Linked DNA regions of Homo sapiens: regions 2, 3, 4, 5 and 6 are each linked to region 1. The links come from fine-mapping of genetic effects on gene expression. A gene starts in region 1. Each other region holds a variant in brackets. All regions are shown on one strand. Distances are from middle to middle. Region 1 holds the start of ZNF185 (zinc finger protein 185 with LIM domain). Region 2 has its middle 2.1 kb from the start of MAGEA1. Region 3 overlaps ZNF185 (zinc finger protein 185 with LIM domain). Region 4 overlaps ZNF185 (zinc finger protein 185 with LIM domain). Region 5 overlaps ATP2B3 (ATPase plasma membrane Ca2+ transporting 3). Region 6 overlaps ZNF185 (zinc finger protein 185 with LIM domain).

What was found. PIP is the estimated chance that this variant, and not a neighbour inherited with it, causes the effect.
Region 2: its variant is fine-mapped to the expression of ZNF185 in skeletal muscle (FUSION, PIP 0.95).
Region 3: its variant is fine-mapped to the expression of ZNF185 in whole blood (TOPMed, PIP above 0.99).
Region 4: its variant is fine-mapped to the expression of ZNF185 in whole blood (TOPMed, PIP above 0.99).
Region 5: its variant is fine-mapped to the expression of ZNF185 in pancreas (GTEx, PIP above 0.99).
Region 6: its variant is fine-mapped to the expression of ZNF185 in whole blood (TOPMed, PIP above 0.99).

The regions. Positions count from the first base shown.
Region 1 is chrX:152,895,990-152,900,074 of GRCh38, forward strand. It overlaps ZNF185 (zinc finger protein 185 with LIM domain), which reads left to right and starts at 2,078. Exons shown (of 25, transcript NM_001395254.1): 1 at 2,078-2,249. RefSeq lists an enhancer at 1,330-1,830.
Region 2 is chrX:153,175,167-153,179,251 of GRCh38, forward strand. No RefSeq gene overlaps it. Among named protein-coding and RNA genes, the nearest start is that of MAGEA1, 2.1 kb to the right of the region's middle. The variant A/C (reference allele first, on the strand shown) is at 1,746.
Region 3 is chrX:152,962,173-152,966,257 of GRCh38, forward strand. It overlaps ZNF185 (zinc finger protein 185 with LIM domain), which reads left to right. Exons shown (of 25, transcript NM_001395254.1): 20 at 1,667-1,777; 21 at 3,275-3,355. Among named protein-coding and RNA genes, the nearest start is that of PNMA5, 30 kb to the right of the region's middle. The variant G/A (reference allele first, on the strand shown) is at 1,817.
Region 4 is chrX:152,916,537-152,920,621 of GRCh38, forward strand. ZNF185 (zinc finger protein 185 with LIM domain) reads left to right here. Exons shown (of 25, transcript NM_001395254.1): 5 at 595-633; 6 at 749-826; 7 at 1,529-1,618; 8 at 2,447-2,545; 9 at 3,792-3,875. Among named protein-coding and RNA genes, the nearest start is that of ZNF185, 21 kb to the left of the region's middle. The variant C/T (reference allele first, on the strand shown) is at 2,364.
Region 5 is chrX:153,531,296-153,535,380 of GRCh38, forward strand. All of the region lies in intron 2 of ATP2B3 (ATPase plasma membrane Ca2+ transporting 3), which reads left to right. Among named protein-coding and RNA genes, the nearest start is that of ATP2B3, 16 kb to the left of the region's middle. The variant C/G (reference allele first, on the strand shown) is at 1,581.
Region 6 is chrX:152,934,469-152,938,553 of GRCh38, forward strand. It overlaps ZNF185 (zinc finger protein 185 with LIM domain), which reads left to right. Exons shown (of 25, transcript NM_001395254.1): 16 at 1,950-2,045; 17 at 3,606-3,695. All of the region lies in intron 1 of LOC105373372 (a long non-coding RNA gene), which reads right to left. Among named protein-coding and RNA genes, the nearest start is that of ZNF185, 38 kb to the left of the region's middle. The variant T/C (reference allele first, on the strand shown) is at 2,207.

The DNA.
Region 1 (4,085 bases):
GCTTGAGGCCCTGGGGCGGCCCAGCCTGGGGCAGTCCTCACTTGCTGGCCGTGCCGTTGGACACCACATTTGCTCATGCTCTCCAGCTGGGCCCCCCACCCCTGACTCAGGGCTCTTGAACAAGTTTGCCTTTTCCCTCTTCCTTGCCCTACATCTCACCCATCATGATGTCTTCTACCTTCTACCCTTTCAAACTAGGGGCTCTTGAAGAGGACTGGGACCCAGACAAAGAGTATGACACAGCCTAAGTCATACAGTAAACATGTTTAGGAGGTAAGATGCCAAGCCAAATCCATGGCCACCAGTAGCCACAGTGGAGGAGGGGAGGTGTTAGTTGCTGGCCACCAGACAGGGGCATACAATATTGGAAGCAGAAAAATGCTTGTTGGCAAGAGACGGACATGAACAGAAGTGACTTTATATACAACCCCCTAAGCACACACAGGGTCGCCTTCTCCCTATCTCATGAACCCCAAGAAGAAAAGGATGAGGACAGCTTCCACAGCCTCACTCACCCATCCATCACTTCCTTCTGCAAATTCTTCGGATGCCCTGTGCTGGTCTCCGTGACCCAGTGATGAATCAGAAGGGGCCCTGCCCTCCCAGAGCTCAGGATCTAGAACAATAGAGGGTGACAGCCACTATGCTGGATTGATGTCATCTGAGGGAACTAAGGGGTGCACAGAAGGAAGTGATCAGCTCGACTGGGTGGCAGGCAGGGGAGGCTTTCCGGACACTGGGTGGAGGCTTGAAGAATGACTAAGAGCTCACTAGCCCGACGGGGATGAAGAGCATTTTAGGGAGTCCGAGGAGCAGGAGCAAACACCCCAAGGTGAGCGCCATGTGATGTATTCAGAAGGCAATGGAAAAAGGCCAGTGTGGCTGTAATGTATTGAACAAAGGGAAGAGTGGCTGGACCTGCAGGGATAGGTCGTCTCAAGGAGTCTGGCTTTTACCCTGAGAGCAATGGGAAGCCATGGAGGAGTTGCAAGCAGGAGAGCACCTGATCATATTGACACACGTGAACTTTTAACCTGACCTCCGTGTAGAGACTGAGGGAAAGGAAGGCAAGACCAGAGGCAGGGGGACACCAGCAAGGAGGCTGGTCTTCGGGGCCAGGTCTGGACTAGGGTGGTGGCAGCAGGCACAGGGAGAAGTGGGTGGACTGGAGGGCCATGGAAACACCACATTGGCAGGCCTTGATGAAGGAGAAGCAGCTGGTCCATTCTTTTGAGCCTACCACCCTGGTAGGCCAACTCCTGGCCAAGTCCATGCCATTTCTTGGGCTGGCTTAATTGTCTCCCTGTTTGGGAGGCCGTGGGGTGAGGGGTCTTTCCTCCATGCTCTCTCCATCCTTAGCCCCAGCCCAGGGCCTTGCACACAATAAAGCACTCGGTGAGCACCAACGCGTGACACAGGTACATCAAACCGCATTGGCTCTGGGAGTCTGGCTGTATCTCGTCGCCCAGCCTGGGAGATAGCCCCGTTTGCTGTGCCTTGTGAGCCCCGGGTCCGTCCCAGGATGGCCTTCCACGATGAGCGGCTCCCTCACTCTTCTCCTCCTTTCCTGCCTGCAGGACTTCCTGGATGATCTCAGCCGCCAGCCCCCCGCCCCCCTCCCCGCCCCTGTCTGGGATCTCCATCTGTAAAATGGATCTAGGAACGGTAGTTCTCGACTGAATTAACCCGACAGCATCTGTGGAAGTCGTTGGCCCTGTGCCGGGGCCAGATCGCGCAACTAGGAGCGGGGGCCCTTCACGTGGCGGAGGCTTCCCGGCCTGGGGGCCACGGGCCCGGAGGAATTTGCCTGGAAGTTTTCCATCACGGCAGAGCCTTCTGGAGCTCGCCCCGTGCTCGACAAGGGGAGCCCCAGACTTGATTTCTCCAGCAGCCCCGCGGGGCGGGGCCGAGAAGGGGCGGGCGGGCGGAGGACGCTGGCGGGAGAATGTGCGGAATGTGCCAGGCGCCTCTACCTACCCCAGGAGGGGCAGAGGAAGGGGCCGGCCGAGGGGAGGGGCGAGGGGCGAGGCTCCGGGCGGCCGGAGAAAACCTGTTTGTTCTCCTGCGGGCGGAGCCCAGTCCGCGCCTCCTCGCCTCCCTGCGCGCTCCCCGCTGTGCACCGCGCCCCGCGCCCCGCGCCTGCCTCCCCGGCCCGGCCCGGCCCGGCCGGGCGCCGTCCACCCGAGGGAGCCCGCGCCCTGCGACTGCCCGACCCTCCACCCGCCCCACGAGCCGGGCACCGGTGCCAGGTAGGGCTGTCGAGTCGCCATTGGATGCGGCCCTGCTTGGAGGCAGTGGGGGGCACCCAGTCCGTGCCCAGCTGGGGACAAGTCAGGGCCTCAGTTTCCCCATCCATAACCCTTACCAGCTCCAAGCATCTCTCTTCGGGTTCCCCCCGGGAGTCAGTGGATTTCTGGTTTTCGCTGTGAGTGAAAAGACTGACAGGCAGAGGAGGCCAGCGTCCCCTACAGAGGCAAGTGTCCCCCTTGCCAGCCTGATCCCTCTGTCTTGCCCTTTAGGAAAGACACGGTTTAATTGTTAGTAAACGGCGAGGGGCCAGGATGCTCTGAGAGTTGACTGCAGGCCTTTAAGAATCAGGGAATCTCATATCCCTCCGTCCCCCTGTGCCCATTTTATAGATGAGGAAACTGAGACCCAGAGGCTGGCTCACCCAGAGGATCCCCTCAATCGCCCTGGGGCCTGTGAGGTGCATGTGCTGGGTACAGGGCAATCTTGGGGAGGGCCATGAGGATGGTGGCTGCTCACACTCAGACAGAAGGCGCCGAATCAGGTGTCACTGGGTGTTATCGACAGGATCGGCACTGCACCAGCTCTGTGGCTGGATTGTTTTGATGGGGGCAGAGGGAGCCAAGAGTCTGTCCTCTTTGGAAAGGCAGAGGGATACCTTGCCTTACAAAAAGGCCGAAAGCTCAGGTGCTCCTGCCTGATCTGCCACTTCTGAGCTGGGGACACCTGGGTACTCTGTCGGTTTAAGGGGGTGACACGTCAAGCTGCCTCCCACCCAGGGCTGCTGGGGACTCAGATAAAGTAGGTGGTGGGTGTGTCCCGGCTTTGGGACATCTGAGGCATGGTAGGAGTTGTGTTCTTGCTGAGCCGTCGGCACGAAGCCTTGGCATCATGGGAGGCCCCAAAGCTGTGAGCCCCGAGAGAGGGCCTCTCACACCCCATCCAGCAGTGCTTGAGGCTTCAGTACCTGGACTAAGTCCTGCCTTGGTCTCATGGCCCTTCAGACTTCTGGCTGTCGTACCTGGCTGGGGGCGGGAGGCAGGGGTGCACAGGTTGATAGGCCTGAACAGAGCTGCAGAGGTCCTGCCTTCCCAGGGCCTCCGCTCCTCATCTGAAAAACAAGGGGCAGCTCAGAGGCCAGCAAGTGGCCAAGACACAGATGCACAGATGAGGGGCCAGCCTTCTGGCAGGCCTTGGTGCCTCCGCTGTTCCCCTCATCGCTCCCAGGCCACTTCAGGATGGGAAGGAACAGATCCCTCTCACCTGCCCCTCCTTCCAGCAATTCCCAGCCCCTGGCTGGATGCTGTGCATTCAGCCGTGTGGAGCTGATGGAAGGCACTCAGTGCAGGGCCAGACACGCAGCAGGTGCTCAAGATCTGTTCATTTCCATCCTCTGGACACTCATGACTCAAGCAACAGAGGTGGCCCAGGACCACTTAGGATGTTGCAGCTCCGAGTAGCATGAAAACATTAGGGGTTCCTCAGTCCTGGAGCAGCGAGGCACCCCTGGCTGGGAAGATCAGGGAAGGCTTCCTGGAGGCGAAGGGCTTGGAAGCAGGAGGAGGAGCTCGGCAGCCACCAGGTCAAGGCCCGCACGTCCTTTGGAGCTGCTGGAGTCTAACCTCCCCGTTACTCCTGAAAGATCATAAACCACTTCTTGCTGAGCTCCTGCATATGGGGGCCCACAGAGAAATCAGCTCCATGCCTTGCCCTGAGGAGTGACAGAGAGGCCATCTGTCAGTAAGAAGTTGCCATCTGAATCCAAATGGCAGCAGTGCTTGTCCACCTCACTTCCTGCTCAGCTCAAGTCCAGACTCCAGAAAAAGCCTTTCCCACGT
Region 2 (4,085 bases), 280 kb after region 1:
AACATACTTTTACAAAGTGTAAGTCTGCCAGATAAGTGTGTAAATCAGTTAAACATCTGATAACCATTTATTTAATTTTTTTAGAAATGAAAACTGTATTGGGATTTTAGTTAACATAAAGTTCTTAACTTTTAGAAAAACATATTGAAGTATTTAGAGATGAAATGGAATGATGTCTTAGATTTGCTCCACATTATTCCAGCAGCTGAGATACAAGTAGGTGAGCCTCAAACTGGAACCAGATATGACATGTATTGAAGGTTGTTGATGCTGAGTGACAGGTGTTCTGGTTTCATTATGTTATTCTATTATTCAAGGTTTTTGAGGCGCTCCCTAAGAAAAAGTTTTTATCGCAAATTTCACACCGTTTAAAGTGAAATCCTATGTGAAACTGAACACTTTGCAGAAATAAAATAAATACATTTCCAAATTGGTCCAAAAAGGAAAAGAAAACTTAAACTATACAAACAGAAATGGTACAATATTCATAGCTCAAGCCACCCTCAAATGTTCCAGTCTAGGCAGTCTTGGAGGCCGATTGAACAAAATGATCAGGAAAAACTAACTACCATCTTACCTCAACTCTTCCAAGGCATACAAAATATAGACTATCGTTCAATTCCTTCTCCCAGACTTGCCCTCTTGGATACAAAAACCAGATGAGGACCACCCCCACCCATGGACAAAAACACATCAAGGAAGCTCTCATACATAACACCACATATCCTACATAAGTTAGTAGCATATTAAATGAACAAACAGGCTCTGCCCAAGGAAAGAAAATATGATTTATTGTTACAAAAAAGAAACGTATTTCATTGTAATTCCTTACATACAAAATGGAGAAGAAAAAGATAAGTGCTCATATCACTGGGTATAGGAAAAGCTTTTGAAGGAAATTCAATATGAGTTCAAAGTAAACATATTTAGTTAACTTCTTTTGAAAGAGAATTTCCATTTACTAAAATCAACAGCAAACATACATAAATGCTAAATGTTCGAGGACTTATTATTAAAGAGAGGAAAAATAATTAGATGTAAGGTATTATCTCCAGCTTTTAAATCAGTATTGAGACACAAAGTCAGAGCTATAAATATCAACATAAATAAGGAGTATGAATAGTGGAAAAAATATATAATGTTTAGTGATAACATGATCAGTCTTGAAAATTCAAAGGAGTAGGCATGTGGAAGATTCAAGTGAATGGGCCTTCAGAATGAGGTATACAACAGATTATAATAGCAAAATCAAAATCTTTGCCAGATGAAAGCAATCAGTAACTAGAACACTTAATATACAATATGCCTTTTTCAATAGCATCAAAATCCAAGAATTACCTGAAAAGAAGCCTAGTAAAAATGCAGAAGGTCTTTATAGAGGCAACAATCACAGTATACTGACAGATTCAAGTAAAAGGAGTTTGAAATTAATACATGAGGCTGGGTGCGATGGCTCATGCCTGTAATCCCAGTATTTTGGGAGGCTGAGGCGGGCAGATCACCTGAGGTCAGGAGTTCCAGACACACCTGGCCAATATGTTGAAACCCCATCTCTACTAAAAATACAAAAATTAGCTGGGTATGGTGCCATGCACCTGTAATCCCAGCTACTCAGTAGGCTAAGGTAGGAGAATCACTTGAACTTGGGAGGTGGAGATTACAGTGAGCCGAGATAGTGCCACTGCACTCCAGCCTGGTAGACAGAGGGAGATGCCATCTTTCTCTCTCTCTCTCTCTCTCTCTAT[A/C]TATATATATATATATATACACACACTCACACACACATATTATAGAGGAGCATAGCATATTCATTGATGAGAAAGAGAACACTGTAAAAATGTCAAATGTGCTTCAATTATGTACAATTATGTACAAATTATGTCTTACCTGTGGCTGCCAACGTGACAATCAAATTTGGGCTGCTGTTCTCTGCTTCACAAATCAACCCTGGAAAATTATAGAAGGGAAAAAGAAGGAGAAAGACACAATATCAGCAACAAAGTCTAAGCAACAAAATAGAGAAAGCCCTGGGTGATGCTGAAGATGGTTGAACTGGTAATTGTGTTTGACACTTGCAGTCTCGGTTGGAGGGGGGGTGGCAGCAGGGATACTGGGGAGGTCTGTACCCTGCCTAGACTGCAGTTGACAAAATGGTTACAATGAAAGTTTTCAAATTTCCACTTCACATCATTACACAGTCTGAGGCAGCTCCTCAAAACATGATGCTAGTAGCCCTAGGGCAACAGCAGGACACCAGTTAAACAGGGCTGGTTAAGACAGTATGGATCAAGAGTTCCACTAATAACAACCAGACACCAACATAGTGGGTGAGAAATTGTGTTTCAAAAAAAATTATTTCAACAGAACGTAAAGAATGGAAAAGAAGTAGAATAGGATATAAGAGTGAATCATGCATACTACTGGTAGGTATTCTTTCCTAGAAATAAATACATATATATATACAGCTACCTACATATATCCTTGGAAGATACGAAAAGTGTATTTCTTTTTCATTTTTTAAATTTTTTGAGACAGAGTGTCACTCTGTCGCGAGGCCCACGCTAGAGTTCAATGGCACGATCTCGCCTCACTGCAAACTCCGCCTCCAGGTGCAAGCGATTCTCACGCCTCAGCCTCCTGAGCACTACCACACCCAGCTAATTTTTGTATTTTGTGTAGAGACGGGGTTTCACCATGTTGGCCAGGCTGGTCTTGAACCCCTGACCTCAAGTGATCTGCCCGCCTCGGCCTCTCAAACTGTTGGGATTACAGGCGTGAACCACCGTGCCTGGGAGTAAAACATATTACTTTGAGGACAAAAGGTTTGCCAAGTGTAGCTCTGGCTGGAGAGAAGCCCCCGTGGGAAGGTGTGCGTCTTCTCCCAGAGGTCACTACAATCGCGGGAGCTGCCACTCTGCAGGGAGCACCTGGCCTGGGACCTGCAGCCATTCTCTGCAATGGGTGCAGCTGGGCAAATGCTCAGAGATGGCAGAAACAGCATCTCCCGCCCATGACTTCAACAAAGTGCCAGGAGCCGGGAGGAGGACCTTCCTGAGTGGGGACAGAGGGTCCACTCTCCCGACGTAGATGGGCCACAGAATGCAGCTCAGCCCCTCCTGTCAGCCCTGGAAGACCCTGGCAATGTTACCACGACCACACCCCCCCTCCCATTGCCACCTCATGGGACTGGGGGCCAGAGACTTGGTGGGAGAGAAGCAGACACAATCGGCAGAGAATATGGGTGTCCAGATTCTGCCAGGCATGAAAGTCAGGACCCTGAGGGGTGACCGAGGGTCCCCCAACCCCACGCCCAACCCCACTACCACCAACACGACGACTTAAGCCCCGGGGCACCACTGGCATCCCTCCCCCTACCACCCCCAATCCCTCCCTTTACGCCACCCATCCAAACATCTTCACGCTCACCCCCAGCCCAAGCCAGGCAGAATCCGGTTCCACCCCTGCTCTCAACCCAGGGAAGCCCAGGTGCCCAGATGTGACGCCACTGACTTGAGCATTAGTGGTTAGAGAGAAGCGAGGTTTTCGGTCTGAGGGGCGGCTTGAGATCGGTGGAGGGAAGCGGGCCCAGGCTCTGTAAGGAGGCAAGGTGACATGCTGAGGGAGGACTGAGGACCCACTTACCCCAGATAGAGGACCCCAAATAATCCCTTCATGCCAGTCCTGGACCATCTGGTGGTGGACTTCTCAGGCTGGGCCACCCCCAGCCCCCTTGCTGCTTAAACCACTGGGGACTCTGAAGTCAGAGCTCGTGTGATCAGGGAAGGGCTGCTTAGGAGAGGGCAGCGTCCAGGCTCTGCCAGACATCATGCTCAGGATTCTCAAGGAGGGCTGAGGGTCCCTAAGACCCCACTCCCGTGACCCAACCCCCACTCCAATGCTCACTCCCGTGACCCAACCCCCTCTTCATTGTCATTCCAACCCCCACCCCACATCCCCCACCCCATCCCTCAACCCTGATGCCCATCCGCCCAGCCATTCCACCCTCACCCCCACCCCCACCCCCACGCCCACTCCCACCCCCACCCAGGCAGGATCCGGTTCCCGCCAGGAAACATCCGGGTGCCCGG
Region 3 (4,085 bases), 66 kb after region 1:
GGTGAGGTGAGCAGGGGGCAGGAGCTGGGCCCTGTAGGGTCTTGTAGGTGAGGGAGAGGAGGCTATTGGGAGGGCTCCTATTGCTCACATTGCAGTCCTGGGGGGATGCCCAGGGCATTTTTTCTTTTTTTTAAGAGGCGGTGTTTCACTGTGTTACCCAGGTTGTTTTTGAATTCCTGGCCTCAAGTGATCTTCCTGCCTCAGCTTCCCAAGTAGCTCCAGGGAATTTCTGTTTTACCTTGCCTCTTCAGTTGCGCCGTCCCCTTCAGTATTCTGCTGACATGGATCACAGGATACCAGACACCTGGTAGTTGTTCAGTCAGTAGGAGGTCTTCCTTCCTTCCTCTTAGAATCAATCCTTTTCTCACTTGTTGGCTCTGCATTTTATCCCCCGTGTATCTTTTCAGATTTTTGTGGGGCCTCCTCTCCCATCCAGTCCACCTTCTCCAGTCTCTATGGTATATTTCTTTGTCATAGGGTGAAGCAGGAACAGGTACAGGATGATTGGGTACACTGAGGTGAGGTAGGAGGGCAGGCCCTCAGGAAGGGCTTCCCAGAGGAGGTGATATTGTCTGCAAAGGCATATGAGAGCCTGGAAGTCCAGGGGAACTGCAGGCTGGTCTGTACGGCTTGAGTGGCACGTGATACAGTTTGAGACTATGAGGCGAGAGAGCTAGGCAGATGCTAGACCATGATTGTTCTTCCCTTTCCCCACTCTTCAACTAGTTGTAATCTTAGGCATTGGATTCTCTGGCAAGGGGACAATACCCAGTAGCCTGGGCCAGATGGAGGCAGCCATATCTGGAGTATGATCTGAGCCACAGCATGTTGGAGAAAAGCCAGAATCAGCCCAGGGCAGTGTGCACCCATAGTGCTGGCCTCAGGCCTTTGGAGGGTGAGCAGACTTAAGTTGGAAGGTGCAAACAAGTGGTCAGTGGTGCTGCCCAACATCGTGCCCTGAACTGCAGTTGACAGCTACGGCAGCTTTGGTAATGAGGCTCATAGCCTGGGGGCAGGCAGAGTGAGAGCCGATATTGGCTTGGCCAGAGAAAAGCCCTTTTGGGCTGCCGAGGAGGTTGGATTCCAGGCCAAGGGCCATATCTGGCAGCTGAAGTGTGGAGGTTCAGAAAAACTTCGACACCGGTCAGTTTCCCGCCTCTGCTGGGAATGAGGTGCATCTGACTTTCCTCCTCAATGATGCCTAATTTCATTTGGTCCTCTGCCCCTTGGCCTTGTGTTCTCTAGAGAGTTCCCTGCAGGGTGGCAGAAGGAGCTGATCCTAGTAAGGGACCGTCCCATCCAGTGAGGAGGTGAGCTGGGCTGTGTCTTCCCCTTCTGCACCCTCCTGACTGTCACATCCCCGGGAGCCCCATGATTCCACTCTAACTGAGTGAATCACAGAGGCCAAGGCCCTTGGCTGCAGTCAGGAGTACTGAGTGGACACTGGAAGATTGGGGTCTTGCTACTGACTCACGATGTGACCTGGGACATGTCTCAACTCACCTAGCCTGGGTTTGCTTATCTGTAAAGTGAGAAGTTCCATTTGTTGGTCTTGGAGGAAGCTTCAAGAGCAGTGCTCAAGGGTTAGGCTCAGAAAAGCCTGTTTGACCCTGGAAGGTGTCAGCTCCCAGGTTGACGTGCCCACCCCTCCCTTTATTTCTTTCAGGGTGAGGAGCCCCTCGAGCTGCATGGTCACTGTTACTGTCACTGCCACATCTGAGCAGCCTCACATTTATATTCCAGCCCCCGCAAGTGAATTGGACTCCAGCTCTACCACGTAAGAAGGGCTATCTAGCAACCTGGGAGATGTTCCTCC[G/A]CCACTTCCTCCTTGGCGGTAAAGGACTTGGCTTTTGTTCCATGTTGCTTCCCATTTAGTGCCTTCCCCAGTTTCTAGCAGGCCATTAGCCAAGGGGCCACACAGGACAGTGTTAGTCCCCTAATATAAACTCCCATCTACCGGGCCTAGACATTCCCACACCTCCTTTTTCCTATCTCTGTAAGAGGCTGCAGTGGTACTTCCTAGTGCACTAGTGGATGTGGCTCTGCCATTCATGGGTCCATGCCTGGGAAGCCAGCTCCAGTCCGTGAAGGCCGGGCCTGTGAGGGCATTCCTGTGTTACTGTAAAGGAATACCTGAGGCTGGGACATTTATAAAGGAAAGAGGTTTAATTGGCTCACAGTTTGGCAGGCTGCACAAGCATGGCACCAGCAGCTGCTTGGCTTCTGGCAAAGGCCTCGGGAAGCTTATAATCATGGTGGAAGCCGAAGTGGGAGCAGGACCATCACATGGCACGAGCAGGAACAAGAGTGAGGAAGGGGAGGGCCCGGACTTTGAAACAACCAGATCTTGTGTGAACTAACTGAATGAGAACTCACTTTTCACTAAGGGGATGGTGCTAGCTGTTCATGAGGGATCCCCCCATGATCCCGTCACCTCCCTCCAAGCCCCACCTCCAACACTGGGAATCACATTTCAACATGAGGTTTGTCTGTCTCTGTCACATGCCCACTGCTTCACCTGCATTCCTGGCCACCTGTCAGGGTGCAGGAAGGGATGTCACTGCAGGAAGGCTGCTCAGTGAGGTGTGTGTGTTGGGGGCGGGAGGGGGGCATATCCAAGGGGGCCTCTGCAGACATCAGGTCAGCAGGCTGGAGTGTGCAGCATGGAAATGGGGGAAAATTTGGGGCCATCCTGAGCCCAGCATGATGCAGACCTTGTTTCCAGTCCTGCAGAGGCCAGTCCAGGATGAGGCAACCTCTAGGCCTCTGGACTCTAGGAGTGAGAATGGAGAGGTTAGATGTGAGGTGGAGATTGCACAGTAGCTGAGTACCTTCTGGGAAGTGCTGAGTGGTAAAGACTGACAGTGTAGGATTAAGGCTTGGAGGATATCTTGGTTGTGGGTAGAGGGGAAAGACGACGCAGCCCTAAAGTAGGGGTGGAAAGCCCACAGGACTGAAGTGTAGAAGTATAGAAGCCTGGGGAGAAGATGGGGTCACCGAGGTCTGCATGGAGGAGGACAGCACATTGTCATTGGTTGCAGGAAGCCCCTTTCTGGGGCCCTCAGTCCAAACACAACAAGAGACGCTCATGGCCTGGGATTGTAGTCTGAGTCCACAGCAGTGCCAGTGCCTTTATCCTGGGCCTTCCCATGAGCTCTTTCACTTCCTTCAAACCAGGCTGGGTCTCCCCAGCCCTGAACCACTCCTGTGGGCCAGGCCTGGTTCCCTGGAATCTTCTGGTGTACCTCTGATTTCTTCTGTGCTCCTTCTACAGCAAAGGGATTCTCTTCGTGAAGGAGTACGTGAATGCTAGTGAAGTGTCTTCTGGGAAGCCAGTATCTGCACGCTATAGCAAGTAAGAGCGGGTCCCAAACCCTTCCATGTCGGCCTTCTCCTGCCGGCTCCCATATTCTCATCCCTGCATTTCCAGTTCCTTGTCCAGGACTTGGCTCAGAGTAGCTTCGGGGTAATTGTCGAGTGGATGAGTGATGTAGTTGCCCTCTGATGGGATTGATGCATTTTCTACTGAACTGGGCACCTTTGGGTTCTCCCTTCCGGTGAATTCATCCTGCACACCATTTTCACTGCCATTCTGTTCTGCTTGTCTTTGTTATTTTATTTTGTAAAATGCTGAGAACACCCCTCTTGACAGAGCTGGCAGAGCCCTAGGGACCAACTAGCTCATCCTATTTCTTTTCAGATCACAGAGCTCTTCTCTTCTGCCCTCATGTTCTTTTCTGTCATGCCAGGCTGCCTCATTTGAACACACATGTGACTGCAGTTCCTGATACATGTGTGGCTTTGCTTTTTAATTTTAATTAATTAGTTAATTAATTTTAATTAATTTTTTTTTGAGATGGAGTCTTGCTCTGTTGCCCAGGCTGGAGTGCAGTGGCGCCATCTCAGCTCACCACAACCTCTGCCTCCTGGGTTCAGGCAATTCTCCTGCCTTAGCCTCCCTAGTAGCTGGGATTACAGGCGCCCACCACCATGCCCAGCTAGTTTTTGTATTTTAGTAGAGATGAAGTTTCACCATGTTGGCCAGGCTGGTCTCGAATTCCTGACCTCAAGCAATCCACCTGCCT
Region 4 (4,085 bases), 21 kb after region 1:
CTCAAACTTCCACCAAGACTTGGGGTGTGGGCATGCAAGGAGCTGGAGCAAAGAGGGCCCCGAGGGACAGGAAGGGGGACAGCTGGCTTCGGCTGGCTGCTGCCTGGGCTCTCCCCTTCAAGCCCTCATGCACCTTCCTGGTGGAGGCTGTTGAGGGAGATCAGGTCAGACCCCGGGCTGAGGGGAAGCCTCTGGCTCTGACTGGGGAGCCTCCAGCTTGCACTGGTTCAGCCCCAAGCACAGAGGATGGGAGGGCTGTCAGCTGAGAGCAGTGCTCCGTCGGCGCAGCACTGGGAACTGGCTGGCCAAGGAGAAGCTGGACTTTGGAGAGGCCATCAAGCTGCCTTCCTAGGCACCTGCCATGAGGAGTCACCTGGGGCACTTTTCCTGGGGGAGCATGAGGGAAATAGGCAGAGCATAGCGGGCACCTGATCAGGGGCACAGGGGGCTGGCACCCCTCGTTTCTGCTGTACTGGGACACCTGGAGCACTTGCCAGCCAATCTTATTTGCTATCGTTAAGGGCAGGATAAAGTAGGATGACCTCAGCCCTCCAGCAAGCCTCGCTTCACTCCACCCCTTCTTCTCTTCGGCAGGCCTCCGAGCACAAGGGCTCCCACTGGCTACATCATCCGGTAAGTGACCGCAGGACTCTGCCGGCCTTCCTGTGCCCACTCACGCCAAGCCCTGACTTCTTACCCCTCCAGTCCCTCCAGGGAGCTCACCGGCATCTCCTGGGCTCTCTTTCAGGGGAGTGTTCACCAAGCCCATAGACAGCTCTTCCCAGCCCCAGCAGCAGTTCCCCAAGGCCAACGGGACTCCAAAAAGGTATGTCCATGGGGTGTTGGCCAGTCGGCCAGTGGGGAGGTGTGAGGGCCTGGTCTGGGCTCCTGGCAGAGACAGTGCTCTGCCTATCAGGACTGTGGGGCCTTGGAGGTGCCAGCTTTCATCCTGGGTAGGGCAGGACCCTGGAGAGCAGGGTGGGGTGACCAGAGGAGATGGGCTGGGGTGGGACTGGCAGTCCCAAGTGGATGTGTGGGTCTCTGGGAGGTCCTGGGCCACTAACAGTGTCCTTGTCCTGGGGTCAGTCCTGACTAGGCCTGGCTAATGGGACAGAGAGGTGCAGGAGTTTGGGAGGGGCTGGGTGTAGAGTCCCCCTAGCCTGGCAGTGGGCACCCTTGACTTGACTTGCTGATGGCATTGAGAAGGCTGAAGTTGCATGCAATTCAAGCACCTTGGCATCAGGCATTGCCTGGGACTCCGTCAGACTGGAAAGGCCAAGGGGACCCGGAAACAGGAAGCAAAGACACAGGCAAGAGCCCGCTGGGCTGTTCCCTGAAGCTCGGTGGGGTTTGCCTACACAGCTGCTCTGAGTGGCGCAGTTCCGGGTGTCTGTCAGGGCCAAAAGCAAAGAGGAAAGGCTCCCAGGCAGCTCCTGGTCCACCTCTCATGTGTCCACTGGGCTGTGTGGCCAAATCTGGAGGCAGGAGGGAGCCTGCAGGTAGACACATGGAACCTTCTCCTCTCTAGTGCTGCCAGTCTGGTGAGAACAGCTAACGCTGGTCCTCCCCGCCCCTCCTCCTCTGGCTACAAGATGACCACTGAGGATTACAAGAAGCTGTGAGTATGCAACGCCAGGCTCAGCGTGGTTCCCTCCTCCAAGGAACAAGTCCAAACTCTGGGTCCACTGAAGGCAGCTGACTACTTGCCACCGAGCACAGCCCGGGAAGTCCCGCCTGCCTGACACTCCCTGCCAGTTGCAGCTGTGGCCTGGAGCCCACCAGAGGGTAACAAGCCCCAGAAAACTGGATGGCTGTGCACATTGCACGTCTGATCCGAGGCAGAGCGGAGACCGCAGGAAGCTTGTAGGAGGGGCCCCACGGATCTGGGGAAAGGGTCATGGGTCGTGAGGCTGCTGCTGGCTGGCTGTGCTTCCTGGGCTTGGCCCTGCACCCGGCCGAGCCTCAGGTGCTCTGCCTGGCTGCACTGGGCTGGGGGCCTGGGGATCCTCAGGGTGCTGCTGTCAGTCTGAGCATTGTGTGCCTAAATCTGAGCTGCTTCTTGGATAGAAACCTTCGGGTTTTCCCTTAGTGCTCCCCTTGGGGTCCCTTTCAAAGCCCCCCACCCCCCACTGCATGCTCAGGGAGGAGGGTTCTCTGGACAGAGGTGTGAATTGTGTCTCTAGTTCCCAGGGGACCACATCTTTCCGTTGTTTGTCCCTTGCCTCCATCATCCAGGGTTGGGGAGCTGCTGGGTAACCTTTCTGGGGAAGGGGAGAGGCTCGAACAGGGAGGGAGGGGAGAGCTGGTCTCAGGGAGGAACAAGTGGCATGACCTAAGGCCCAAAGGCAGAGATATTGACTTGC[C/T]TCGTCATTGTTGTTGAAAGCCAGGAAGCCAAGCTGCTGAGGGTGGCAGCCTATGACAGGAAAGCGCCTCTCCCCTCTCTTAGGGCACCCTACAATATCAGGCGCAGCTCTACATCAGGGGACACCGAGGAGGAGGAGGAGGAGGAGGTGGTGCCATTCTCCTCAGATGAACAGAAACGGAGGTAATGGAATGGTGCCTTTTGGGCATCCCGGGGGGCAGGGCAGGAGCCTGAGTCTTCGAAGACTGCTGGAATGAATTGTACTGGTTGGGGTGACAAAATGCACAACACGTAGGCCATCAGCGGTAGCCCACGGAGCATGAGAATAGGTGTCATTCTCTGAGTGCCAGAACCACCCACTCAGTGTTGGACCAGCTGAGGGGCCCTTGAGAACCTTCTGTGGGGTAGAACCTAGGTAATGTGGGTCCGGGGAAAAGCCTCCTCATGTGGAGGCTCTTCAGGGCTCTAAATCGGTTTGTTAGAAAGGGCCCTGAGACAGTTGAACAAAAATATTCAGGGAGAAGCCACCTGCACAGTGCCCTCTATCTGCATGATCTGCATGCCTTGGGGGTTCTGAATGCCCCGGACCCCAAACTGAGCTCCAGGCATGCACAGCAGTGGGAGTGTGCCCCATGCTGCTGAAATTCTACCCTAGTCTCTGCGCCAAGCTGCCCTCGTCCACACAGGCCAGCAAAGTTCCATGGACCCTTGCCCCTCCTCAGTCCTCTGTCCATGGGGACTGACCACATACCACCCAGTGCTGGTGAACTATGACAGGAAGGGTTTGTTAAGCACCTTTTGTATGCCTTTGGCTTGGGGCCTGTACAGCAGTTGGGCCCTGAGGAAATAAAGCCCTCCCCTCCCTGGGCTCAGCCAGCCACCAGGTCCATATCTGCTGACCCATCTGTGGCGCAGGAATCACAGCAAAGCCCCATTGCCAAAGGCCCTGGCAGATTGGCTATCCTCAGGGAACAGTTCACAGTGGCAGGGGCCCCCAGGCCTGGGTGGAGCAAGGAAAAGAGCCAGAAGCTAGGAGCTGCCTAGCATTGAATGCCAGCTCTGCCACCTGCTAGGTGAGTGCTCTTGGGCAAATAATGAAAGCTTCTTGGACTCAGTTTCCTCATCTGTAAATCACAGAGGATACTAGCGTCTACTTTCCTGGATTGAGAAGAGCAATAAGCCAATGCGAGGATGTTGGCATCTGGCGCAGAGCCGGGCACATGCCACATGCTCCATAAACATGGGCTGCCCTTCCTTCAGGTTCTACATTTCCTTTGAATAGTCCTTGGAGCAGGTGCAAATCTGGTTTCTCTCACCCCTTGCCTCCCTGGGGTGGCCCTAAGTCACCCCGAGTCCATCCCAGGCTAGGCTGGCAGAGCATGTCCAGCTTGGCACCCATCAGATGCTCCCCCATCCCGTGTCACCCCAGGTCAGAGGCTGCAAGCGGTGTTCTGAGGAGGACAGCTCCCCGGGAGCACTCCTACGTCCTGTCAGCGGCCAAGAAGAGCACTGGGTGAGTTGCCACCAACTGGCTCCAGGCTCTAGGACAGCTCTCCTCTCCTCAGAGCTCCAGCCTTCTCTGGCTGATGAAAGGGTGGGTGGAGAGATCACCCCCAAGGGCCTTCCTAGCTGAGCCTTCTCAGATTCTCAGATGTACTTTCTAGAAAATGGAGAGGTCTGGCGGCTACCACCAGGGACAGTGAAGTGCCGGGAATGGAGAGGG
Region 5 (4,085 bases), 640 kb after region 1:
CCCCGGGCCTGACCTACGAGGCCTGGGCCACACCTCTCGCTGTTGCCTTGGCTTGCTTTTCCTCTCTGGGTTCTGCCGGGCCTGGCCTGTGTTCTAGGAGCCTGGAGGTGGAGAGAGATGGGGGACTATTGTTTTAAGGAATCCCCGTAGTGAGTCACGTCGCTGAGTGATGGGCCCTTCTGAAAGGCGGGCCCTTGCTTGGTGGGTCTGTAGGGAGCAGGTGACGGACAGTCTGCCTTCAGGAGGGCCCACGGTGGAGGGCATGTGCCCAGGTAGGCCCCCAGGCGTCCACCTCCTGCCCTCTGCCCCTGAGTTCTGCTTCCTTCTTGCTTCGGGGCCACGGCATCCTGGGCCTGGCTCTGGCTTCCAGATGGTCTGAATGCCCAGGAGCCGCATGTTCTCATCACTGAGGGTCCAGTGACTAGGGAGTGACTCGGGAGCTGGGACTTCCTGGCAGTACATGCCCCATCATCCCTGTGGGGATATATGTCCACGCAGACCCCAGAAACTGAAGGGGTGCTCGACTGGGGTGCAGTGGGGCTGTTTTCAGGAAAGAGAATGGCGTGAATCCCGATGCGTGCATCACCTGAGATCTGGAGGACGGTGGTGGGATCTCGCCCTCCATCTGTTCTCTCCTCCATAAAGGCGGAGCAGGTGGCCGAGTGGAATGCAGCCTGGGCCTGCTGGGGAGGCTTTCAGGGGTGTCATCAGAGCGTCCCAGCAAGGGCGGCCATGACCCACCTCAAGTCACATGGAAGGCAGGGCTGGGAGAACCAGGGCAAAAGCAGGAGGCTTCCTGAGCCTCAGTTTCCCCCTCTGTAAGGCAGGGAGAGTTCTCCTGGCCCTCGTAGGGTGTTTCCAAGGGTGCAGTGAAAGAAACATGTCTGTCAAGAGCTGGCATGCAGATGTGGGCTCAAAACTCAGTGTGTGCCATGGGGTCCTGAGAGGGGCCCCATGGGAGCGGGGGTGCCCCCTACTTAGAAAGTGCCGAGCCTTCTGGAGCATGCTGGGCTGCCCAGGGCCTGGAGGAAGTCCATGGGGGACTAAGCTGGAGGTGCCAGCAGAGCCCCCAAAGCCAGGGAGGGACAACATAGGGGAAAGAGGACCCCTGGGTCTCTGGTCAGGTGGGTTTGAGTCACTGGGTGGGGAGTAGGCACTCTGAGCCTAGTTGGGAGGTGAGGGTCTCTGGGCCCTGCTGAAGAGAAGAGTCCAGAAGGCGGTTGAGTAATGGGCCTGGACTTGGGCCATCCCCTCCAGCAGCCCCTGGAGGCAGCAGCCAGGGACCCCCCTGGCTGTCTCCCACCACGAGGCCGGCCAGTCTGTGCGGGGATGGTGCAAATGCCGGAAGGTGCGAGGCCCCCTCTGTGGAGGTTCTCATTTCAATGAAGCCAATTAAGGTCAGAAAGATGAAAGAGCACAGAAATGGTATGTTCCCTGCCCTTTTGGTGCCTACAGACCATTCTCGGCAGCCAGCCCAGGCCGGAAACTCTGTCAGGCCTGCAGAACTGATAGGCCTAGTCACTTCGGTTCTTGGCCATCTCGGCGATGGCTGCTGTCTTTATTGGGCCTCAGGGAGGCCA[C/G]CGCCCAGGCTTATATAGAACCCAGAAAAGCAAAGTATATGCCATTTGGTCTGCACAGCAGCCAACAGTCGCTCTAAATGGGCCTTACTCTAACTGATGGATCCTGTCTGCCCTATAGCCTGTTGCATTCATGAAGACAGTGAGGGTTAGCAGAGCACCCCGACCCCACCCTGTCCTCCAGGATGGAGACTCCACCTCCCAGGACTCCAAGTTCCTCCCCTGTGGGCCAGGCCCCCATTCACTCATTCCTCCAGGCCCCCGGCCACATGCGGGACTGACCACGCGGTAGACTTCCTGCCGACTCCATACCACGTGTCTCAAAGAGCTTAGGGCCCAGCTGGTGGGAGACAAGCTCACAGATCATCGCAGCGCCAAGCAGAGTGAAATAGGAATGGGTCGCGGGATTATAGACTCAGGCGCAATCAGTTTTGGCTGGGGAACTGGCAGAGACTCCTGGAGAATGTTCCACTTGAATTGTGACTAAGAGGATTCATCGGAGGTCAGCAGGTGGAGCTGGAACAGAGGGCGTGCGGTCGGGGCTCAGAGCTGGCAGGGCTGTGTGGCTGGGGTGGGAGTGGGGCTGGGAAGTGCTCAGAAGGAATCTGGCCTTTTGCTTGATGGGGATGGGAGACTGAAACAGGGGCTCGCTGGAGTGATGGTGCCTGAACCAGGAAAGTGGTGACTCACAGCAGGGTCATGACCAGTTGCTGGACTAGAGAGAGACCTAAGAGGTGGTCCACAGGACGTGGAGCTTGCTTGCTGAGGGGTGGGGATCCTGCAGTGGGGAGGGCCAGCAGGGCCAGCCGAGGAGAAGGAAGTTGGCCCCGGGACCATGGCAGAGGGGAGGACTGCCTCCTTGCCCACTGCCCTCCCCATGAGTCACTGTGGGTCCAGTCAGACACAGCCATGGCTGCACCAGTCAGGAGCAGCTGTACGACCTGGTATGGTTCTGTCTGGGCCACCGCTGTGGGGTCAGGGGCAGGGACCGGGTGGGGGAGGACAGAGCTGGCCTTGGGTATGCCATGGTCAGAGGAGGGAGGATGAGCACATGCCAGGGGAGGGCCACCAGGCCTCGGTGACCGTGCCACGAGGAACCCCTGCTCTGAGGAACAAGCATTTCTGTCATGGCCGTGTGCCACCCAAGAGCCTACCACACAAGCCATTCACTCTGTCACCCGCTGGGGGCACAGAGCCTGAACCTGACAGTGGCACAAAGTTGCTACATGGTGGGATTGTTGAGGCATGAGGTGACTGGAGCTCAGGAAGGCAGGGAGAAGGCGCCCTGGCAGGTGCACCGTCACAAGCAAAGGTCCTGGGGTGGGGAGGGGAGGCTGTCTCGAGAAGACGAGGAGTCCAGGTGAGAGCCGAAAGCTGCCATTGCTGCCTTGAGGGGTCAGAAGTGGGACACCCAGCTGTCCTCTGGCTCTGCCACTTCCCCAAGCCAGCCTCAGTTTCCCGCATCAGAAAAGCAAGGGCAATTCGTCCACACAGCACCCCCAGAAGGAGCCCGCCTCACCTGGGACAGCTTCGCTTGCTGTCCTGGCCCCCTCTCCTCAGCTTTCACTCCTTCTAGTCTTTTCCCCCCAATGCCTGTCCCCAGACGCCTTGCCTCACCTTTGCCCCAGCTGCAACCCCACAGCTCTTGGCCCTCGGGCCTGCTGTTCTCCCTGTCCCAGCTAGAGAGGGACGGGGTTAGTTGAAACTTGTTGAGCACCTGTCCCAGCACATCAAGCCAGTGCCAGGCATGTAGTAGCTGCTCGGTGAATATGTGTCAGGTGACCAACTGCAAGACAGGGCGGGGAGAGGTGGGGAGAGAGGACGGCACAGGCACATGGCCATCATTTTGTCCCCACATCTCCCAGAAGTGAAGGCTGCTTCATGTGCAATGTGTCGCGAGAGTAAACGCGCAGGTGCCCACGCTTTTCAAACATGGGTCACTGTGGATGGATGTTTCGTGAAGTATCCACCAGGGCCTCTCCTGAGAATAAGGCCATGGACTTGGCCGTGTCTGCTTTGGCTGCCTGAGGGCTTTCTCCCCTTTCTTCAGGGCTCTGGGCCACTCGTTTCCAACGGATGCTTCTGAGCCAGGAGCTTCCCCAGAGACGGGGGTTCAGGGCCCTGCTGAGCTGCCAGGAGGGCTCTTGGCTGATGTCAAGGCCAGGCCATGTGCACTGAGGCCATTTCAGTTCCATGAGGATGTGACAGGCTTAGCTCGGGCCGGGAAGGAGCGGAGAGAGAGGAGCTGCAGTGGGCCCCGCCAAACACTGTGATGGCTGCAGAAGGGGCAGCCTGGGCCCTAGCGGATCCTTGGGTAAGGTGACGGGGACAGGGAGAGGGATGACAACTTTGCGATGCTCGGCAGAGTGGGGCCAGGGCCGTGGCCTGGATGCTTTCAGTGTGGGGAGACTTTGGCTCCTTACTTTGTCATCTGGAGGGAAGAAGAGCGTGGAGGGGAGTGGGTGGCACCATGCTGTGGGCTGGGACGTTGGCAGACTCACCAGCGAC
Region 6 (4,085 bases), 38 kb after region 1:
CTAGATTTTCATGAATTTTAACCCAGTCTTTTACAGTTGTCTTACCTATATAGTAGTCCCTAGGTATCTGTGGGGGATTGGTTCCAGAACCTCACTCATATACCAAAATCCATGCATGTTGAAGTCCCTGATATAAAATGGTGTAGCATTTGCATGTAACCTATGCACATCCTCCTGTACCCTTTAAAGCATCTCTAGATTATTATAATACCTCATACAATGTAAGTGGTATGTAAATAGTTGTTATACTGTATTGTTTAGGGAATGATGACAGAAAAAAGCCTGTACATGGTCAGTACAGATGCAGCCATCCTATTTTAATTATTTTTCCCACATCTCATCTCATCCTCTCCTCTCCTCTCCTCTCCTTTTTCAGACAGGACCTTGCTCTGTCACCAGGGCTGGAGTGCAGTGCTGTGATCACAGCTCACAGCAGCCTCAACCTCTGGGGCTCAAGGGATCCTCCCACATCAGCCTCCCAAGTAGCTGGGACTACAGGCGTGGACCACCACGCCTGGCTAACTTTTGTATTTTTGGTAGAGACGAGGTTTTACCAGGTTGCCCAGGCTGGTTTGGAACTCCTGGGCTCAAGCAGTCCACCGACCTCAGCCTCCCAAAGTGCTGGGATTACAGGCATGAGCCACTGTACCTGGTCCCAAATATTTTCAATCTGAAGTTGGTTGAATCCACAGATGTGGAACCCACAACATAGAGGGCTGACCACACTTAGTTTGACTATAATTTTCAACAAACTCCTTTATTGTTTTTCCTTTTTTTTTTTTTTTGAGACGGACTCTTGCTCTGTCCCCCAGGCTGGAGTGCACTGGTGCGATCTCGGCTCACTGCAAGCTCCGCCTCCTGAGTTCATGCCATTGTCCTGCCTCAGCCTCCCAAGTAGCTGGGACTACAGGCGCCCGCCACCACGCCCGGCTAATTTTTTGTATTTTTTAGTAGAGACGGGGTTTCACCGTGTTAGCCAGGATGGTCTCGATCTCCTGAACTCGTGATCCACCCGCCTCAGCCTCCCAAAGTGCTGGGATTACAGGCGTGAGCCATCGCGTCCTGCCTTGTTTTTCCAAAGGAAAGGTTGTTTCTCATGGCAACAACCACTCTCCTTTTCCATTCATTTTCATGGATTTACTTAATCATCGAACTTAGTGATTCTTCTCCATTAGTGGCAGCTCAAAGAACTGAGTTGCTGCCCCAGGGGCCTTTCCTTGGATCTGCTCAGAGACATTGGTTTCAGAGGCCAGGGTCTGCTGTCCCCTTCTTGTGCAAATACAACTGGCATAAAGAGGTCTGGGACCAAACAAGAGCACCTCTTAGTGAGTGTGCTGGTTAGTGGAGGGCACAGGCTTGTATAGGCAGTGATTGTTCAGCATGCCGTGAGCATCAGTCTGCCTGGTTTACAGAGACACAGAGAATGTGACTCCACCCTGAGAAGGTTGGGTAAGACATTCCCCACTAAATCCATATTGAGTGGGTGAATACAGGTGGACTGGGAAGGTGCACTGCTTCTATAAACAGCCACTGGGCCCTGTGGTAACAGGAACACATTAGCACATGTTATGGCCCAGGCATTATTCAAAGTACTTGGCATCTATGAACTCATTTACTTTTCTCAGAATACTTACGAGACAGACATGATTAGCATCCCTATTTCATTGATGGTAAAACTGAGGCCCAGAAAAAAAGGTCAGGTAACATGCCCAATGTCACACAGCTGGGAGATAGCAAAGCCATGATTTGCAACGCCAGAGGGCAACCACTATGCCACAGAGCCCCAGGTGTCAGGCTGCCTTGAGATATAAATATTGTTCCTCAAGCATCCATTTGAGCAGCTTCTTGGTCCTCATCATCTGTGGGGGGCAGGATCCACTTTCTCGGGAGAGGGTAGACATACAGACACAAAGTCCTGAACCTGGACCAGGTCTGGCCTTCTTTCACAGGCTGTGTGCAGCTGCTAGCTTTGCCTCTTTCCTGGAAGACCAGGATGGGCACAGTGCCAACTCTCAGTCCTGCAAGCCTAGACCAGCAGCCATCAGGTAAGGTTAGGGCCACTGCCCTAGTGCCCTATCCCATTGCCAGACACAGCCTTTGGGGCCCAGCCTCAGCTGCAGCACCCCAGGATCCCCCTCGAACTTCTCAGCTCCATGCCACTTTCACATCAGGTGATCACAGCAAGACAGGGAACTCCAGGGGGAGC[T/C]CTGACCAGGGGCAGTGGAAGAAGAGGGATGGGTGATATGTCTGCTCACCCAGAGAGCCCAGCACCAACCTACATGGACCCAAGCTGAGGTGGCAGAGAGGAGGGCATCTGAAGGCAGAGCCTGGGAAGAGATCCTGCTAGGAGGTCTCAGAGAACCTCTGCTGTAGGGACTACAGCCAGGTTTAGCAAGCAGGAGTCAGGGAGAAGATTCCCAGGGGCAGCCAGCATTAGAGGGCTCAGTTCCCAGGAGCACAGGACCGGTGGCTGGGATGGGCAAAAATGGCTCCTGGGGCACAAAGGTACAATGGGAAGAAGCTGTGCATTCCCATGCTGTAAGCGTCTGCCCTGTTTCACCCACCAATCCACCAGTGGGCATGGCCACTTTGCTGTGGGTGTGTGGAGCATTTGGCAAGTCCTAGTAAGGAACGATCTTTCTTAACTCCCATAAACCCTACAGAGGTGTAGGTCAGGTAAGGATACGTCATGCTCAGGGTCAGGTTCCAGCCGCAGCTGAGGGCTAAGGGGAATGGGTGGACGTGGGGCAGGGAGCTGGAAGAACACTCGAGAGATAGCAGGTAAATGAGACATGGCTTTACTCAGCAGCAGCTCTCTTACACAGCTTTCTCAAACTAGCTTTCTCATTAGCAGCTTACTCTCACACCGTCTGCCCTGTCTTGGCTGCTTAGTCCGGTGGCCCCTACGCACAGCTGCGTGGCCAGCTCTCCCTTGCCTTCAGGGTCAGCAGCTTAATTCTTTCTCTCCCTGGGCACGGGCAAGCCAAGCTGTGTCCTGGCTCCCCTCTGTCCTGGCTCCCCTCTGTCCACCTGCAAAGACAGACAGCTCTTGCTCTCTCTCTTTCTCTAGGTTCCCGTGCACCCGCCATGTCAAGCTATGTTGAGCTGAGCCAAGCCCCAAGAGACATGTCCCCCATACACAGCGTCAACAGGGCAGTTATACCTTTTACAGACAATAGTGGTTTAGAGCCAAGTATGAACTTACATAAACAGGTTATATAAGAAGTGGAGGTGTGCACCTGTGCACCAGACTCATTGAGTCATGCAGGCCTGGATATCCCCCTCTGCCTATTCCTTGAACAAAGCACATCCAGGTACCTTACAGGATACTAGAACCCAAAACCAGGAGACTTCCCCAGGGAACCCAAGTTGGTCAGGGGCAGTGTTTGCTCTTGAACTCAGGTGCTAAGGCCATGTCCAAAGCTGACATGAGGTTGTCACACACAGTGGCATCGGTGCCACACTAATGCCAGGACTGAGACACCAGCCTTTACTGGAAGACACAGTTCCTCCCTTTCTGGTGAGAAGGCAGCCTGGAGGGGGAAGACCTGGGCCCCAGCCTTCTTTGGTCTGAGATCTCAGCAGGCCTGTGTTTCCTTCCTCAGCTCCAGTGCCACTTCAGTCTCTGCTGTCCCTGCTGATAGGAAGAGCAACAGCACAGCAGCCCAGGAGGATGCAAAGGCAGACCCAAAGGGGTAAGGCATGAGCAGACAGTGCTGAACTTCTGGGGTGGAGAGAGGCAGCTTGGGCTGTGTGTCCATTGGCCTTTGGCTGGGAAGGTGAGGCCAGCAAGGTTTGTGAGCTGGCCTGAGGCACATAGCAAGGGCAGAAGCCCCAACCAGAACCCTCTGGCTTCTGGGGCCAGGGAGCTTTCCACTAAACTGTTGCCTTGGCCAGGAAATACATCATAGTCAGAAAGGGTCTTTCAGTCAGCAACCACTCTGACAGCAACTGCCTTTTGCTGGAGGCTGGAGCATGCAGACAAATCAGAAACACCTCTGCCCTCCAGGAACTCTCAGGCAGGGGGTGGGCAAAGGCTGGTCCAGATTAGAGCAATACATGAGCGCTAGAGCAGGGGAAGGGGG